Regions from separate parts of the Homo sapiens genome. Here region 1 is linked to region 2. The links come from fine-mapping of genetic effects on gene expression. Tissue or cell type: whole blood. Region 2 holds a variant in brackets; the other region holds the start of a gene. All regions are shown on one strand. Distances are between the middles of the regions.

Evidence for each region. PIP is the estimated chance that this variant, and not a neighbour inherited with it, causes the effect.
Region 1: it holds the start of CLTB, and the variant in region 2 is fine-mapped to the expression of CLTB in whole blood (TOPMed, PIP above 0.99).

The regions. Positions count from the first base shown.
Region 1 is chr5:176,412,330-176,420,329 of GRCh38, reverse strand. CLTB (clathrin light chain B) reads left to right here and starts at 3,791. Exons shown (of 6, transcript NM_007097.5): 1 at 3,791-4,153. The coding sequence starts at 3,967. It also overlaps a transcript of ARL10 not described here. RefSeq lists silencers at 3,499-3,958, 3,999-4,098, 4,209-4,288.
Region 2 is chr5:176,085,001-176,093,348 of GRCh38, reverse strand. It overlaps the pseudogene FAM153B. Among named protein-coding and RNA genes, the nearest start is that of THOC3-AS1, 120 kb to the right of the region's middle. The variant C/A (reference allele first, on the strand shown) is at 5,056.

The DNA of each region.
Region 1 (8,000 bases), 330 kb before region 2:
TATTCCAAGATTGAACAGGCAATTGCTGGGCAGGTGTCATTGCAGAAATATTCTTCGTGCATGGGTGTGACGGCCTTTGTGCAAGATTGTGGTTTCAGACAATCCTTGTTTTTTGTTGTTGTTGTTGTTGGGTTTTTTTTTTTTTCTTGAGACGGAGTTTTGCTCTTGTTGCCCAGGCTGGAGTACAATGGGGCAATCTCGGCTCACTGCAACCTCTGCCTCCCAGGTTCAAGCAATTCTTCTGCCTTAGCCTCCTGAGTAGCTGGGATTACAGGTGTGTGCCACCACACCCAGCTAATTTTGTATTTTTAGTAGAGACGGGGTTTCATCATGTTAGGTTGGTCTTGAACTCCAGACCTCAGGTGATCCGCCCATCTCAGCATCCCAAAGTGTTGGGATTACAGGCATGAGCCACCGTGCCCAGCCTCAGACAGTCCTTGTAATATTTTCTATCATAGGCATGTGTGCATGGGAGCCCCTCATTTATGGCCTCCTGAGTCCATTTTGCTAGGGTTTGGCATAAGTGACTCCAGTTTGATTTGGACAACTTGTGCAGAAGGATGCCCACTTTTGGTATTTCTATTCAACATAGTACTGGAAGTCCTAGCCAGAGAAATTAGGCAAGAAAAAGAAATAAAAGCAACCCAGATTGGAAAGTAAGAAGTATCTCTGTTTGCAGATGCTATTTATTTATTTAGAGACAGGGTCTCACTCTCATTGCCCAGGCTGGAGCGCAGTGGTGTGATTGTTATAGGACAGGGGTCCCAATCCAGACCCCAAGAGAGGGTTCTTGGATCTCACGCAAGAAAGAATTCAGGGTGAGTCCTTGGTGCAAAGCGAAAACAAGTTTATTAAGAAAGTAAAGGAGGGGCCGGGCACGGTGGCTCACGCCTGTAATCCCAGCACTTTGGCAGGCCGAGGTGGACAGATCATGAAGTCAAGAGATCGAGACCATCCTGGCTAACAGGGTGAAACCCCGTCTCTACTAAAAATACAAAAAAAAAAAAAATTAGCTGAGCATGGTGGCAGGCTCCTGTAGTCCCAGCTACTTGGGAGGCTGAGGCAGGAGAATGGCGTGAACCCGGGAGGTGGAGCTTGCAGTGAGCCGAGATCGCACCACTGCACTCCAGCCTGGGCAACAGAGCGAGACTCCACCTCAAAAAAAGAAAAAGAAAGTAAAGGAATAGAAGAATGGCTACTCCATAGACAGAGCAGCCCCAAGGACTGCTGGTTGCATATTTTCATGGCCATTTCTTGATGAAATGCTAAACAAGGGGTGGATTATTCGTGCCTTCCCTTTTTAGACCGTATAGGGTAACTTCCTGATGTTGCCATGGCATTTGTAAACTGTCCTGGCACTGGTGGGAGTGAGGATGACCAGAGGTCACTCTTGTCACCATTTTGGTTTTGGTGGGTTTTGGCTGGCTCCTTTACTGCAACCTGGTTTTTGTTGTTGTTGTTTGTTGGTTTGTTTGTTTTTTGAGACTGAGTCTTGCACTGTCACCCAGGCTGGAGTGCAGTGGTGAGATCTCGGCTCACTGTAACCTCCGCCTCCCGGGTTCAAGCAATTCTCCTGCCTCAGCCTCCCAAGTAGCTGGGATTACAGGCACCTGCCACCATGCCCAGCTAATTTTTTGTATTTTTAGTAGAGACGGGGTTTCACTATATTGACCAGGCTGGTCGCAAACTCCTGACCTCACAATCCGCCCACCTTGGCCTCCCAAAGTGCTGGGATTACAGGCGTGGGCCACCTTGCCCAACACTGCAAACTGTGTTATCAGCAAGGTCTTTATGACTTGTATTTTGTGCTGACCTCCTATCTCATCCTGTGATTTAGAATGCCCTAACCGTCTGGGAATGCAGCCCAGTAGGTTTCAGCCTCATTTTACCCAGATCCTGTTTACGACGGACTTGCTCTGATTCACACACCTCTGACACAATCATAGCTCACTGCAACCTTGACTTCCCGGGCTCAGGTGATTCCCTCACCTCGGCCTCCTGAGTAACTGGGACTACGGGCACCATACCACCATGTCTGGCTAATTTTTTGTAGTTTTAGTAGTGATGGGGTTTTGCCACGTTGTCCAGACTGGTCTCAAACTCCTGGGCTCAATCTATCCACCCACTTCCACCTCCCAAAGTGCTGGGATTACAGGTATGAGCCATGGCACCTGGCTAATAAGCTCTTATCTGCAGAAAACCCTAAATATTCCACACACAAAAAATGTTAGAGCTAATAAATGAATTCAGCAAAGCAGCAGGATACAAAGCCAATGCACAAAAATCAGTTAAATTTCTATGCATTAACAATACGCAATCAAAAAAGAAGATAAAACTTCCACTTACAATAACATCAAAAAGGCCAGGTGTGTTGGCTCATGCCTGTAATCCCAGCTCTTTGGAAGTCTGAGGATGAGAGGATCACTTGAGCCCAGGAGTTGAAGCTGTAGTGAACTATAATCGTACCACTACACTCTAGCCTGGGCAAGAGTAAGATCCTGTCTCAAAACAAAAAACAAACAAACAACAACAACAAAACCATGCAAATGGACAGCAATAAATAAATACATTAATTTAATTAAATAAAACAATAAAAACCCCCCCAAAAACAGTAACATCAAAAGGTGCTCAAGTTGTTACCAATTAAACTGAAAGTTCCAGCTGGGCTTGGTAGCTCACACATGTAATCCCAGTGTTTTGGGAGACCAAGGCAGGAGGATCCCCTGAGGCCAGCAGTTCAAGACCAGCCCAGTTAATATAGCGAGGCCCTGTCTCTAAATAAAAAAATTAAAAAGAAAAAAAAAAAAACACCTGGAAGGTCCCTTCACCCCAACTCCACTTCCACCCCCAACTTGGCGGCACATCTTTCCTTTCGCTCTTCCAGTCCATATTTCATAGTTGCCTTTCAAGTCCCACATTAGAAATAGCAGACAGCCCAAATCCCATGGTGTTTCTTTGCATCGTCTCCCTATACCCCGTGTTTAAATGTCACAGCGCCTCACACACAGTGCTTTGACAGGCCATTTGCCATCTGTTGGTCTCACCGGATTGTAATCTCCGCATGGCCATGGCTGGATTTTATAAAACGTTGCTGTCCTGGTGCTTGGCAAAGCGCAGGCAGGGAGGAGGCATTCAGAGCCTGTTCACAGAGGGCAGCGGGCAGCGTGGAGAGTGGTAGGCTGCCTGGGTAAACCAGGTCTGCCTTTCTCAGGCTGGTTCATACCTAAAGGACATTTAAGGGGCCTAGCTGGCCATCCAAACTCTGGTCGTATGAACTGAAGCCTCCTCAAGGGAGATACACAAAAAAATACACAAAACAACACGGCCTAGTGGGAAAGGACCTGGACTTGCATGAAAAGGTGCGGGGCAGCCTTTCCCAGCCTCAATTTTCCTCTTCTTACAGAGGCGGAGGCTCATAGAATGAGGTGCATGACATCCCAACCTAGGAGAAGAAACTTCTGCAGAATGAATCAGGAGCCAGGTCTGCGCTCCCGAGGCCAGAGGTGGCCTCCTGTCGCAGCTCTGTGCACGGTACGGCCACTCTGTGCCCTGCGTTTCGCCTCCAGGCCGGGCGGGAGCAGTGCCTAGCCCAGGTGTCCTCGACGCGAGCAGCTGGGCGCCGCTGCGGAGGGAGGGAAGCGCCGCGCCGGTCCCGGGCCCAGCGCTGCGCCCAGTCCTGAGGCGCCCTCCTGCGGCCGCTGCTCGGCGACCTCCCGGCCCTGCGGCCCCGCCCCCGCGGTGACGTCACCGCATTCCGGCTCCGCTCCTCCCGCCGCGGCGCCCGCACCGCAGTGACAGCCAGCCGGGCCCGGTGGCGGAGAGGAAGTGCGGTCCGCGCCAAGCCCGTCCCCGCCGACGCCGGCTCCCCCGCGGCTCGGGTGACAGCGTCGCGGCCGCCGGACGCAGCGCGGGGCAGGCGCGGGCAGAGCCGAGCGCAGCGGAGGCTCCGGCGGAGGCGCGGGGAAAATGGCTGATGACTTTGGCTTCTTCTCGTCGTCGGAGAGCGGTGCCCCGGAGGCGGCGGAGGAGGACCCGGCGGCCGCCTTCCTGGCCCAGCAGGAGAGCGAGATTGCAGGCATAGAGAACGACGAGGGCTTCGGGGCACCTGCCGGCAGCCATGCGGCCCCCGCGCAGCCGGGCCCCACGAGTGGGGGTGAGTCAGCGCGGGGCCTGGAGAGGGGCTCAGGGCGCGCACCCGGGGGACCCCGGCCGGGGCCCAGGGGCACAGGGAAGAGAGCCTGCTCTAGGCCACCCGGGGCAGGAGCTGGGAGACGTGGGGAAGAATCTTCTTGGAGATCTCCATGTAGGACTTCCGAGCTGGGGATGAGGCCTCGCCTGGGGCTGTGGATCTGGTGACTCCCGGGACAGGAATTCGGTCATGACATTTCATCCCCAGGCCAGCTTCCCCACTGCCCGGCTCTGGAATCCAACCCCACCTCAGTTTTGAGAGTCCCTCCTGAGCCTCCTAATAGCCTGGGTGTCCCAGGCTCCCAGCTAAGTGTGCAGGTGTGGGCAGAACACAGCCCTCCTGGCCCCTCAGGCTTAGCTCTCTCCTGCAGCTGGGAAAAAAGAGGATCCTGGGTGCTCCAGGAACTCACTAACCTTCCCCGGTGACCGCCTGGCATTCGGCAGTCGCTGGGCTAAGCGCCTTGGTTACATTTAATCACTTCATACACGTGATTGAACCCATTTCAGAGATGGTAAAACTGAGGCTCAAGGGAGTATGCTATTGAAATAACTAGTAAGTGGCAGATCAAGAATTTAAACCTGTTTCTTTTTCTTTTACATATATATTTTTTCTTTTCCTTTTTTTGAGATGGGGTCTCGCTATGTTGCCCAGACTGGTCTTGAGCTCCTGGGCTCAAGCAATCCTCCCACCTCTGCCTCCTAAAGTGTTGGGATTACAGGTGTGAGTCACCACACCTGGCCGTGAATTTAAACCTGTTCCTGTCGGACTTGAAGCCCTCTCCACCTGACCACACTGCCTACCAAGTGTCTGGCTCTGAGTTAGACACCGGAGTGTGGGCCACAAAGAGGCATCAGTCAGATGCGGTAGGGCCCTTCAGGGTTTTGTAGTTGTCGACTTAATGGTTTTCCAAAGGTGGTCCGGGGCTATTATGATTTACTGTGATTGGCTTCAGACCTCAGTGTTCAGGGCCTAGTCCCTGTGAAATCATCTTTATCAATGATGTTTCTGCCCTGGTTCTGGCTAGCAAGAATGATTTTGTAAAATATTTAGTAAAAAAGTAGATATCACCTTCATGGGTACATCCAAAACAGGTTTTACTTCCTGTTGATGTCATTTTGGAAAGGTTTATGGGCCTGTTGTAGTAAGTGCTAACATATATACATATAGACATATTTTGGTTAATGATGTTTACAAGGCTCTTCACAGTCATGTTTGTATCCATTCAACGTTTACTGAGCACCTACTGTGTGTCAGGACGCTGGGGATACAGAAATGAATAAGACAGTTCCTGTGGCTGAGGAGTTTGAAGCAACTCTGTATCTCCTTGATATGAGAAATGTAACCAGGCTTTTGTAACATGCAAGAAACCGGTGGCCCAGAGAATCTGAGTATCTTGCCCAGAGTCACACAGCCAGGAATGACCAATCTAGGACTTGATCCCACGCCTCCCAACTCTGGGCTCCATGCTCTTTCAAATGCTGTGGAGCCTGGGCAACATGGTGAAACCCCATCTCTACAAAACATACAAAAATTAGCCAGGCATGGTGGCATGTAGCTGTAGTTGTAGTTCCAGCTGCTCGGGAAGGCTGAGGCAGGAGCATAGCTTGAGCCCGGGAGGTGTAGGTAGGTCGCCGTGTGCTGTGATCACGTCTCTGTACTCCAGCCTGGGCAGCAGAGTGAGACCCTGTCTCAAAAAAAAAAAAAAAAAGATTCTATAGCAGTCACCTCCCTGGCAGGAGATAGGATGTGGGGTGAGAAGCATGGGGTCTTTTGCCACCTATCTGAGACAGCAATGGAGGGCTTCTGAAGTGGAAGCTTCCAGCACCTCAATACAGAATCTGCCGTGTCCCAGGGAATTCCTAAGAAATGCCTGCCCCAGTTAATGCACCAGTATTCACTGGACCACACCTCTGTGAGACCACCCTTTTCCTCAGTCTGGCTCACTGGGGCCTGTTGGGGTCGGGGTGCAGGGAAGAGGAGGGAGGCCTTGTGGGGAGGTCCTGCTGAGGGGAGCCATTGTGAGAACCTCAGGAGAGAAAAGATGGGATTCAGGCTGAGGGCAGCCAGATGCCTGAGGGAGCTGAGCAGGTTGTGGCCTCTCCCAGGATGGTGGGGCTCCAGGGACTTACAGTCTGGATGGCAAGTTCTGTCCTTGGCAGGGGTGGGGCACAAATTGGCCTCAGACCAGAGGTGACAGGGAGAGAAACAATGACACGCTCGCTTCTTCCAGGGAGGTGCCGGGGATACAGCCTTCTGAGGGTCTCCCAGGCGCATACCTGCTGACTCTGCAAAGGCTCAGCTGCCCTCCTTAGTTGGATCGGGGAGCAGGGAGGTGTTGAGGGATGGCGGCTCAGTGGATGGCCAGATGGGCTAGAATTGATCTGACCTTCTCAGCCTATGCAGTGCTGAACAGGTAATCTTCCCCTGACCAGGGATGTGTGCCAGGAGCCTGGATGGGGCAGAGAAAAAGCGCCCTGGCCTGCTGAGAGCTGGGCAAAAGCTGGCTTAGCAGCGGCCGCCAGTCAGTACCTCTGAGGCACCTTCTCTTAGATGTTGGGGTCCTCAGATTAGCAATCTCTGTGCTGACACTGGGCTCAGTTGCCCCTGGGGAAAGAGGTATCTGGTGTAGGCCTGTGCTGGAGCCACAGGGAGCCCCTCCTCTCTGGCTGGATCTGTGGCCCTGGGTGATCTGGATGATGGACACTTTGTTTCCATTCATCAGCCTTGGGTAGGTTTCCATTTTCACACCCAGTTTTCTGAGCACCAGGCCTGGCTCTGACTTGCCTGTCAGTTCTGGGCAAGCCCATTTCCCCCGCTGGGCCTCGTAAGCTCACAGGAATGTTCTGGACCCTCTCTGCCCTTGTTCCAAAATGGGTCAGGCAGCTGAGGGAAGCAAACCCTCAGGGGTTTATCCCTGGGACGTGTCTCTGTCTCAGTCCTGTTCTGCTGGCCTGTGAGTGTGGACTCCCGGTGGTAGATGGGCAGTGGGTGGGTGGAGAGCACTGTGGGAACAGGTACTTGGAATGCTGTGTAGGTGTGTGTGGACTCTTAAGGAGGCCGAAACTGCATGTCCAGAGGAACACTCTCGAGGCTGAGGCAGAGAGACTTTCTGAAGGTCAGGGTAGACCCCAGGCAGCTGTGTGTAGATGTGGGGTCTGAGACTGGGGTTGGTCAGGGCGGAGTAGGGTGGTGCAAATTCTCGAGAAGGCCAAATGTACAGACCGGCATCACAGGGAATAGACCCTGGTAACGTGAGGCCCTGCTAGAGGAGACACCCCAGCAGAAGAAGCCCCTTTGCAGAAGATGCTGCCACTGAAATGCTATTGGTCCCACTGTGATTTAGGGGCCAGGACACCCATGCAGGAGAAGCCTTATCTGAAGGAATGGGAGTGACAGCTGACAGAGTTGGTTGGAATCAATCACTGGTTGACTCTGAAAGCAAAGTCAATTATGATTTATGTCACCCGGGGATTATTTCCATGGGATTAAGTACCCTTCCCTTGAGTCCCCAGGCCAAACACACTGTCGCTGCTCACAGCCCTGTCTGGCTGGTGAAGGGCTATTTGTCCATCTGCCTATTAACCTCATGTGGCCTCCATGGCTTTTTGCTAGGAGGCACAGCAGTTTCTGAGAGCCTTGCAGATAACAGCAGGCCTCAAAACAACAATTCAACTTCCATTTAGCCAATAGTTACTGCTCACCCATTCCGTGCTGGAGCCCTGAGGAGCTGAATAGGACACGGAGCCTGGTAAGGGGGTACACACGGACCCTGGGGGTCATGAGTAATTGCACAAGAGGGTGCAGGATACTG
Region 2 (8,348 bases):
ATCTTAATTTAATCCAAATAAGATAAAGCTAAGAAAGCAACTGTTTTTTCTCAGACAAATCCAGGTGGCCTGACCTTCATCGCCTCTTGGTACTTCTTCCATGTGCTGTATAGGTGGAGCTCCCGTAGTCGCCGTAGTTGCCGTTTCATCTCAACTAGGAGGATACAGAGTGACCGTCAGCACCTTGGTGGTGGCGCTCATGAACAATTCAGTAACACTGCTTGAGGTGGGCTTGGGAGGAGGGTAGCAGGCACAGGAGAGATGCAGGAAGAAAGGGAATCAGGGCCTTTGGCTTCCTAGCTCCAGGCCGCCTCATAAACATATAATAGCCAATCTCAAACAGTGCACACCAGCAGTGCAGGCTGTGTGTCCCTGGCAGCCTCTTAGGGCTCCTCCTTCCTAATCTGACCTGAGCTAACTTGCCCTCTTATTGATCCCTGCCAAAGTCATTTCCTCCTCAGAATCCACATGTGCTGCTGATCTGTTTATCATCCCTTCTAGAAGATTTTGTACTAAACAAGAAGTAACCTTTCTTAAAATAGGAGATTTAATTCTAGCCAAAAGATTTTATTACTAACTTTCTGTTACAAGGCAAATAAACAGAGATTTGAAAATACTCTATTATCCTACCATTTAACGATGACCCCTACTTAGCATGTGATATTTGTTCTTCCGCTCTTCCTTTTCAACACCATGTGTGTGCACCATGGAGTTCACTGCTGCTCATGCTCACACTGACTCCAGCACAGAGACAGTCTGTCATGGGGAGCAGCGAGGCGGGGCAAGGGGTGGGCACTGACCCTCTCCAACCCAGCTGTGCAGAGATTCCATCAGGGAAAATGGGTGCCAGGCTAACACCCAAGTTGAGTCTTGAGATTTTATTGGATGCTATGTGTTGGGATTGGTTTCCACTGAATTTCTAAGACTTGTGGTGATTATCTCCTTAAATACAATAGAGTATGTCACTGATTATTGTCTGCTTTTGAACAGGAGCTGAGGAATGACCTCAACGCTGTAGACCAAAAGCCTGAGGACTCTGTGTGTTTTACATTAATGATCACACTAAAGCCCACAGTGCAATGTACCTACTCAAACAAACCCTGGGTTAGCTGACCATTGAGACCATCCGATAATGATAGTGTTTGGGATCTGAATAGGTTTTCATTCTTCCAGCACACAGAAGTGCTGGAATAACTTGGCCTAGCAAGAAATTATACCAGGGCTTTGTGACAAATTCAGTGTAGTAGCCCATGGCATTAACCTTCCACTCATTCCCGAGTTCACATGTGTCTCTTCCATTTAAAAGACCAAGAGCTTGGGAAATTCAACTCTGCAGCATGTCCATCTGAGGACTGGGGATATTAAACTTATCTTCAGGTACAGCTGTGGTGGACGATGAATGGGTAGCTGAGTAGCTGGTATTACAGACATGTGCTCCCTGAGTAGCTGGTATTAAAGACATGTGCTTCCTGAGTAGCTGGTATTAGAGACATGTGCTCCCATGCCCAGCTAATTTTGTATTTTTAGTAGAGATGGGGTTTCTCCATGTTGATCAGGCTGGTCTTGAACTCCTGACCTTAGGTAATCCACCCTCCTTGGCCTCCCAAAGCACTGGGATTACAGGCATGAGCCACCGTCTCCAGCCAGAACATTTTGTACGAGGTAAAAAGCAACCTTTCTTCAAAGAGGTGATATAATTCTAGCCAAAATATTCTACATATTCACTAACCTTTGTTTCAAAGAAGACTAAACCAAGATTTGAAAATACTCAATTATCCTACCATTTAAAGATGACCTCTACTTAGCCTGTGATATTTGTCCTTCTGCTCTTTCTTTTAACACTGTGTGTGTGTGTCATGGGGCCCGCTGTTGCTCATACTCACACTGGCTCCAGGAATGGGACAGCCCTTCATGGGTGACAGCAGGTGGGAGCGCTGACCCTCTGTTACCCAGCTGTGCAGAGATTCCAGCAGACAAGATGGGCACCAGGCTAACAGCCAATTGGCTCTGTGAGATCTTGTTGGGTGCTGTGTCTTGGGTATGTGTGCTACTGAATTGGAGCATTTCTAACGTTTGTGGTGATGATCTCATTAAATATAATAGAATATATCTCTGAATGTTCTCTGCCCTTGACCAGGAACTGAGGAATACCCCATCACTTAAGACCAAAGGCCTGGCAGCTCCCTCTGTATGTTTCATATTAATGACCGCACCCAAGTTCACTGTACAATGAACCTACTCAAACTCTGGGTCAGCTGACCATTGAGACCATTCTATTGTGGTATACAGTGCTGGAGATCTTTATAGGCCAACATACTTCCACATACACATAGATGCTAAGGACTCTCTGACATGGTGACAAGTTACACCAGGGCCATGTTATAACTTCAGACTAGTAGCCCACAGCATCACCCTTCCACCCATTCCCGAGTTCATCTATGCCATTTCCATTTAGGAGACCAAAAGCCTGAAAAATTCATCTCTACATCATCTCCATGTGAGGACTTGGGATATTAAACTTACCTTCAGCTACAGCTGTGGTGAGGAATGAATGGGTTGATTTTTTGCAAAAATGCAGTGGTGATCAAATTTTGTTTCTAGAATATCAATCTTTGTGTTGTGCTTTGCATATGGGAACGTATTTTCTGGGGAAAAGCACACAAACTCGCAGAGACATTCACAATCATTCCACATTGACTCATTCCTCCATACCTCCCAACTCTGATTCACAACACCCTCTTCTATCCAAATGACCCTGTTCCTTCCAAGCACCAGAGTCAACGGTCACATTTCTTGACCAGGTTCTTCACTTGTCAAGACAAAAGTGCTTGAACCACATTTCTGGCAGGAAGTTCAAACCAGAGTGGCTCTCCAGAAAAAATGAGGCAAGAAAGTGTCACCTTTGTCAACACTAGAATTTTTCCTCAGCATAGGGGTGATTCCAGAATACGTACTGTCTCTCTCTGTGTCTTTGTCCACCTGCATTTAGAGAAAAACAAAACACTACAAGGGTCAGACCATGCTGTGTCCTGTGTGCACAGGTTTTCCTTTTCCCTCCCTCCCTTCCTTCTTTCTTTCCTTTCTTTTCTTTCTTTTTCTTTCTTTCTCTTTTTCTCTTTCCTTCCTTCTTTCTTTCCCTTCCTTCTTTCTCTTCCTTCTTCCCTTCCCTTCTTCCTTCCTTCCTGCCTCTCTCTCTCTCTCTCTCTCTCTCCCCTACTCCCTCTCTCCCTTCCTCTCTCCCTTTCTTTGCTGGAATTTCGCTCTGTCACCCAGGCTGGAGTACAGTGTTATGATCATGGCTCACTGCAACATCCGCCTCCTGGCCTCAAGCGATCCTGCTCCCTTAGCCTCCCCAGTAGCTGAGATTACAGTAGCCGGTCAGCATGCCCAGCTAATTTTTGTATTTTTAGTAGAGATGGGGTTTCACCATACAAGTCTTTTCTTTACTTGGTGACATTAGAAAAGCAGATGGGAGACAGTGGTTGAGGCAATGGTCCTAAAGCCTCGAAGACACTTCTGGAAAGGCACAAGATTTTTATGCAAGACTTTCAAGATTGTTTTGGTTGTATAGTCACAATGTTGTAAGAAGAAAGCTTTTCCCCTAACAAAAATTCTTTCTGCCATACAGTTCATAACTGAAGGTGTCATCTAAGAATGCCATCTGAGATCATTTCTTACCTGGTAATGACCCTCACATTTTCCCACCAAAATATTCTGTAAGTCATCTATAATGTACATGGTAAGATTTTCATATCTCAATTCAAATAAAATAAAAAAGAACCAAGAGCAACAAAATTTCCATCTCAGAAACATAAAGAAGAACTTACCATATGAACGCCCAGGACATCTTCAGATGAAGCTTCCTGCACCAGGTCCTCATCGTAATCTAGGAAACACAGAGTAACTGTCATCATGTTGGTTCCACTGAAGGAATCCCTTAGGCAACCTTGGATGCTAAGGACAGGGGGCTGGCATGTGTAAAGGAGGTGGGTTAAGGGTAGAAACTTGGCTGCCACTGGGACACCCTCCTGGGTGATGAGGGAAGGCAAATGAGACCATCAGGAAGCCACAGAAGTCAGGACCTGGTTCTCTGGCTAAGCCCCCACACCACTGCAAAAAAGGCAGAGTTCACACAGGGTGGCACACAAATGCACTGCTGATTTCATGACAGTGTCCCATCACCCCCTTGTGCATTTTGAGGCCCGGTAAATTTCTTTTGTTGTTGAAATGTTATAATGTCATTTATCTTTCCTTGATCTACATATGCTCCTCCTGTACTTATCATCCATTTAATTGGCTTTAAAATCAGTATTGTGGCCAAAATACATCATATTTATTATTTTAATAATCAAGTGCACACTTCAGGGGCATCAGTGCCATTCACAATTCTGTGCAGTAAACTAAATGTAATCCAAATCCAGATGTCTTACTTTCCACCTTAGGAAACTAGAGAAAAAAGTGTAGTGTAATGTAAACCAGGCAACACTCCTCCCCCAAAATATAACAATATTTGCAGAAATCAATGTAATAGAAATAATAAAATAAAGAAACTCAACAAAACCAAAAGCTGCTTCTTAGAAAAGATCAATAGAATTGGTAAACCTCCAGCAAGGCTAATCACAAAGAAAATACAGAAGACACGATGTACAAACAATATGAATAGAAGAGGAATTATCCTTGCTGATCCCATAATCATTAAGAAAATAATAACAGAATACTTTCAACAAATCTATGCCTGCAATTTTTTAAGTGCAGGAGTGAAAGTCTATTGAAAAGTTTGAGAGTAGGAATGACAGGAAGCACAGTAGCCTTTGATGAGAACCAAGCAGGCAACTTGTCAGATTCAAGTGTCTACACCCACAAATTTCCTAGCTTAGATGAAATGGACAAATGCCTTCAAAGGGAGAAACTACCATAACCACCCAAAGGAGAGATAGATAATCTGAGTAGGCCTCTATCATTATAGAATTTAATCAGGAAGTAATAACTTAAAAAAAAATGCCCACATAATTGTACTGGTGAATTCTGCCTAACACAATGGAAAACATAGTCTTA[C/A]CAGCAAGTGATCAAAATTCTACATATTTACCCAGCTAAATTAGAAAATTATGTTCATCTTAAAATCTGCACAAGAATGTGGGCAGCTTTATTCATAATTACCCAAATTGGAAGCAGCTCAGATGGTCTTCAGGCAGTGAGTGAACCAACTAACCCTGTTCGATGAAACCAATGGACTATTGTTCACTGATAAGAATTATTAAGCTGTTAAGCTTCAAAACGATACAAAAGATCTTACATGTATATTGCTAAGTAAAATAAGTTAGTTATACGTAGCTACATACTCTATGATTCCAACTCTATACAATTCTGGAAAAGGAAACCTATAGAGGCAGTAAAATCATCCATAGTTGTCAGGAATCCTCAGAAAAGGAGAGGAATTAGTAGATGCAGCTCAGGTCATGTGTAGGATGTGAAATTATTCCGTCAGGGTGACAAAAGACATTGTCAGTTTGTCAAAACCCATAGGCTGGACAACACAGAGTGAACCTTGATGCTAACCCTAGATTTCTGTTCATAAGAATGTATCACTATTGGCTCAGTCACTGATGCTAACCTTGGACTTCTGTTCATAAGAATGTATCACTATTGGCTCAGTCATTGTTACGAGCGTTATCACACTCACAAAGATGGGATCACCAAAAAATACTGAGGAAGGTGGGTATATGGAAAGTTTTGTTGCCACTTCCTCCATTTTTCGGTTACTTCCAAACAGTTTGAAGTGATGTCCATTACTTTACAAACCTGGCAACACTGTCTCAGAAAAAGATCCTTTTTAATTAATGTTTTAACAATCAGCAAAATGTCTACAATTTGCACTGAGATGTTATTTACTATTAAAAGTAAACCCAAATCTGGAATGGAAATACACCTTTACTCCTCTGGTTGTAGCACTAGTGATTGACTTAACACATTTAAATATGCACACATGAAATAAAGAATATAGCATCGCAATTTTATAATTGTCTGAAATATGAGACACTGAAGAATCTAGAAATCATATCATGAATGAACTGAATGACTGAATTTCCACAACACCTTCCATTGATGCAACTCTAGGGTATATATGGCCGGGATGCCAGTGATACCAGTGATAGGTGATTGGCTTCTCACGCTCGCGGTGGCAGACGGTGGATTCCCCTGGCATCCTAGGATACACTATTTCATCCTCGCCACAACACACTGGGAAATGAATTAAAATAAAGACAGGTGTTGGTGTCTTGCCGCAAAAGATCAGAGAAATGAGTAATTATTTATTCACAGCTTAAATGTTTGATTCCATTGTTCATCATCTGCAGAGCAAAGCCCCCTGAATCTGAGTTGGGCTTCAGAAAGACTTGCACTGTGGGTTGCACGTATAAGTGTGCAGGCAAATGCCTGTATTGAGATGAGACATTACAGAAAGGTAGTAGATTGGAGTGACCAAGAGCATAGGGTCCGGAGCATAGGATCTGAGCTCAGGGACTTCTGAGAAGCTGCTAGAACCTGAGGAAGTTCTATAGATCCCTCTGTGCCTCCTAATGGCCTACGTTATGTTAAAAGGGTAAGAATAGTTAAATGGACCTAAAGCCTTAAAACGGGTGCTTCCTAAGTGCCATAAAGTGTTCAATTATTTCATGTCTGGAAGAATAAGCCAGGCCCTTGGTAGTGGTTAATAGAGAAGCCACTTGGGGGACTCCAGGGCAGTGGAGGCTAAAATTCTTTTCATTCTTGACATGGGTCTCATGCTTTAGAACTCGTGAAAAGTTTTTGTTTGAATTTCCTGTGATGCCCACATAGGCCCAGAGAGATGGGCAGAGCAGGGGCTGCCACTCAGAGGTGACGGTTCAGGGAAGTGAAATGAAGAGATTTGAAGCGACCTGCCTAGGGTCACAACACTGACGAATGATAGATCTGGGACAAGAATTTGGCTGGTTTTCTGGGGACAGAGATCCCTGAATACCTGAGGCCTCTAAATCATGGCCTGGACCCTGAACCTGGAGCTCTTTCCACTCCCTTTCTCAATCCTCCTGCACCAAGGGCTCTTCAGGAAGGTTGATGTATTTGGAAGAGGTGGTGAGTCCAGAAAAAAGCCAAATCATTTAACAAAACAAAACTCCTGTCTCTAGGTTTTAACTCCTGGGCTAAAATATGGCACTTTCCTGCAAACGAAGCCTCTCTGAGGAACAAATTCAAATGTCTGGTCATCCTACCCATTGCCCTGTATTGTCAGCTGTCTGGCAGTGAGCACCCCTCCATGACCAACTGACCACAGCAAGGGACCAAGTTCTGCTTGGCCCCCAAGGTAGTTCGGAACTTAGGACCTTCCAAACTAACTACCACTTGATGGCTGTGCCAAGAATAAACTTCCCTTCAACTGAACCATTCTGAAGAAGCAATTAATGGGAATTAACTGAAAATGTGGCCCCCCAGTGGATTTTTCAGCAGTTTATTCTGTATCTAGTCTATGAAAGAGTGTGTGTGGCGGGGGAGGCCGGGTGTGGTGGCTCACACCTGTATCCCAGCACTTTGGGAGGCCAAGGTGGGCAGATCACAAGGTCAGGAGTTCAAGACCAGCCTGGTCAATATGGTGAAACCCTGTCTCTACTAAAAATACAAAAATTAGCCAGGCATGGTGGCAGGCACCCGTAGTCCCAGCTACTTGGGAGGCTGAGGCAGGAGAATCGCTTGAACCTGGGATGCAGAGGTTGCAAAGAGCTGAGATTGTGCCACTGCACTCCAGCCTGGGTGACAGAATGAGACTCTGCCAAAAAAAAAAAAGAAAAGAAAAGTCCAGGCTCTGTGGCTCATGCCTATAATCCCATCACTTTGGGAGGCCAAGGAAGGTGGATCAGGAGGTCAGAAGTTCAAGACCTCCCTTGCCAACATTGTAAAACCCTGTCTCTACTAAACATACGAAAATTAGCCAGGCGTGGTGGCGGATGCCTGTAATCCCAGCTACTCAGGAGGCTGAGGCAGGAGAATTGCTTAAACCTGGGAGGTGGAGGTTGCTGTGAGCCATTATCACACCACTGCATTCTAGCCTAGGCAACAGAGCAAGACTCTTCCAAAAAAAAAAAAAAAAAAAAAAAAATTGGCATTGGAAGCAGTGTATTTTCTAGAGAAAAGTATTTGAGGCAAAAATCTTGATAGAAGAATAAAAAAACACAAATTGAGTAATAAAACTCTGAAACATATTTATAAATCTGTAGACAAATAGGAGCTGGGGAAATAAAAAAAAATCAGAATGACATTTAACGTACAGGAAAACTGGCTTATCTGAAGAAATTGCAGTCAGAAGATGGAAATGAACA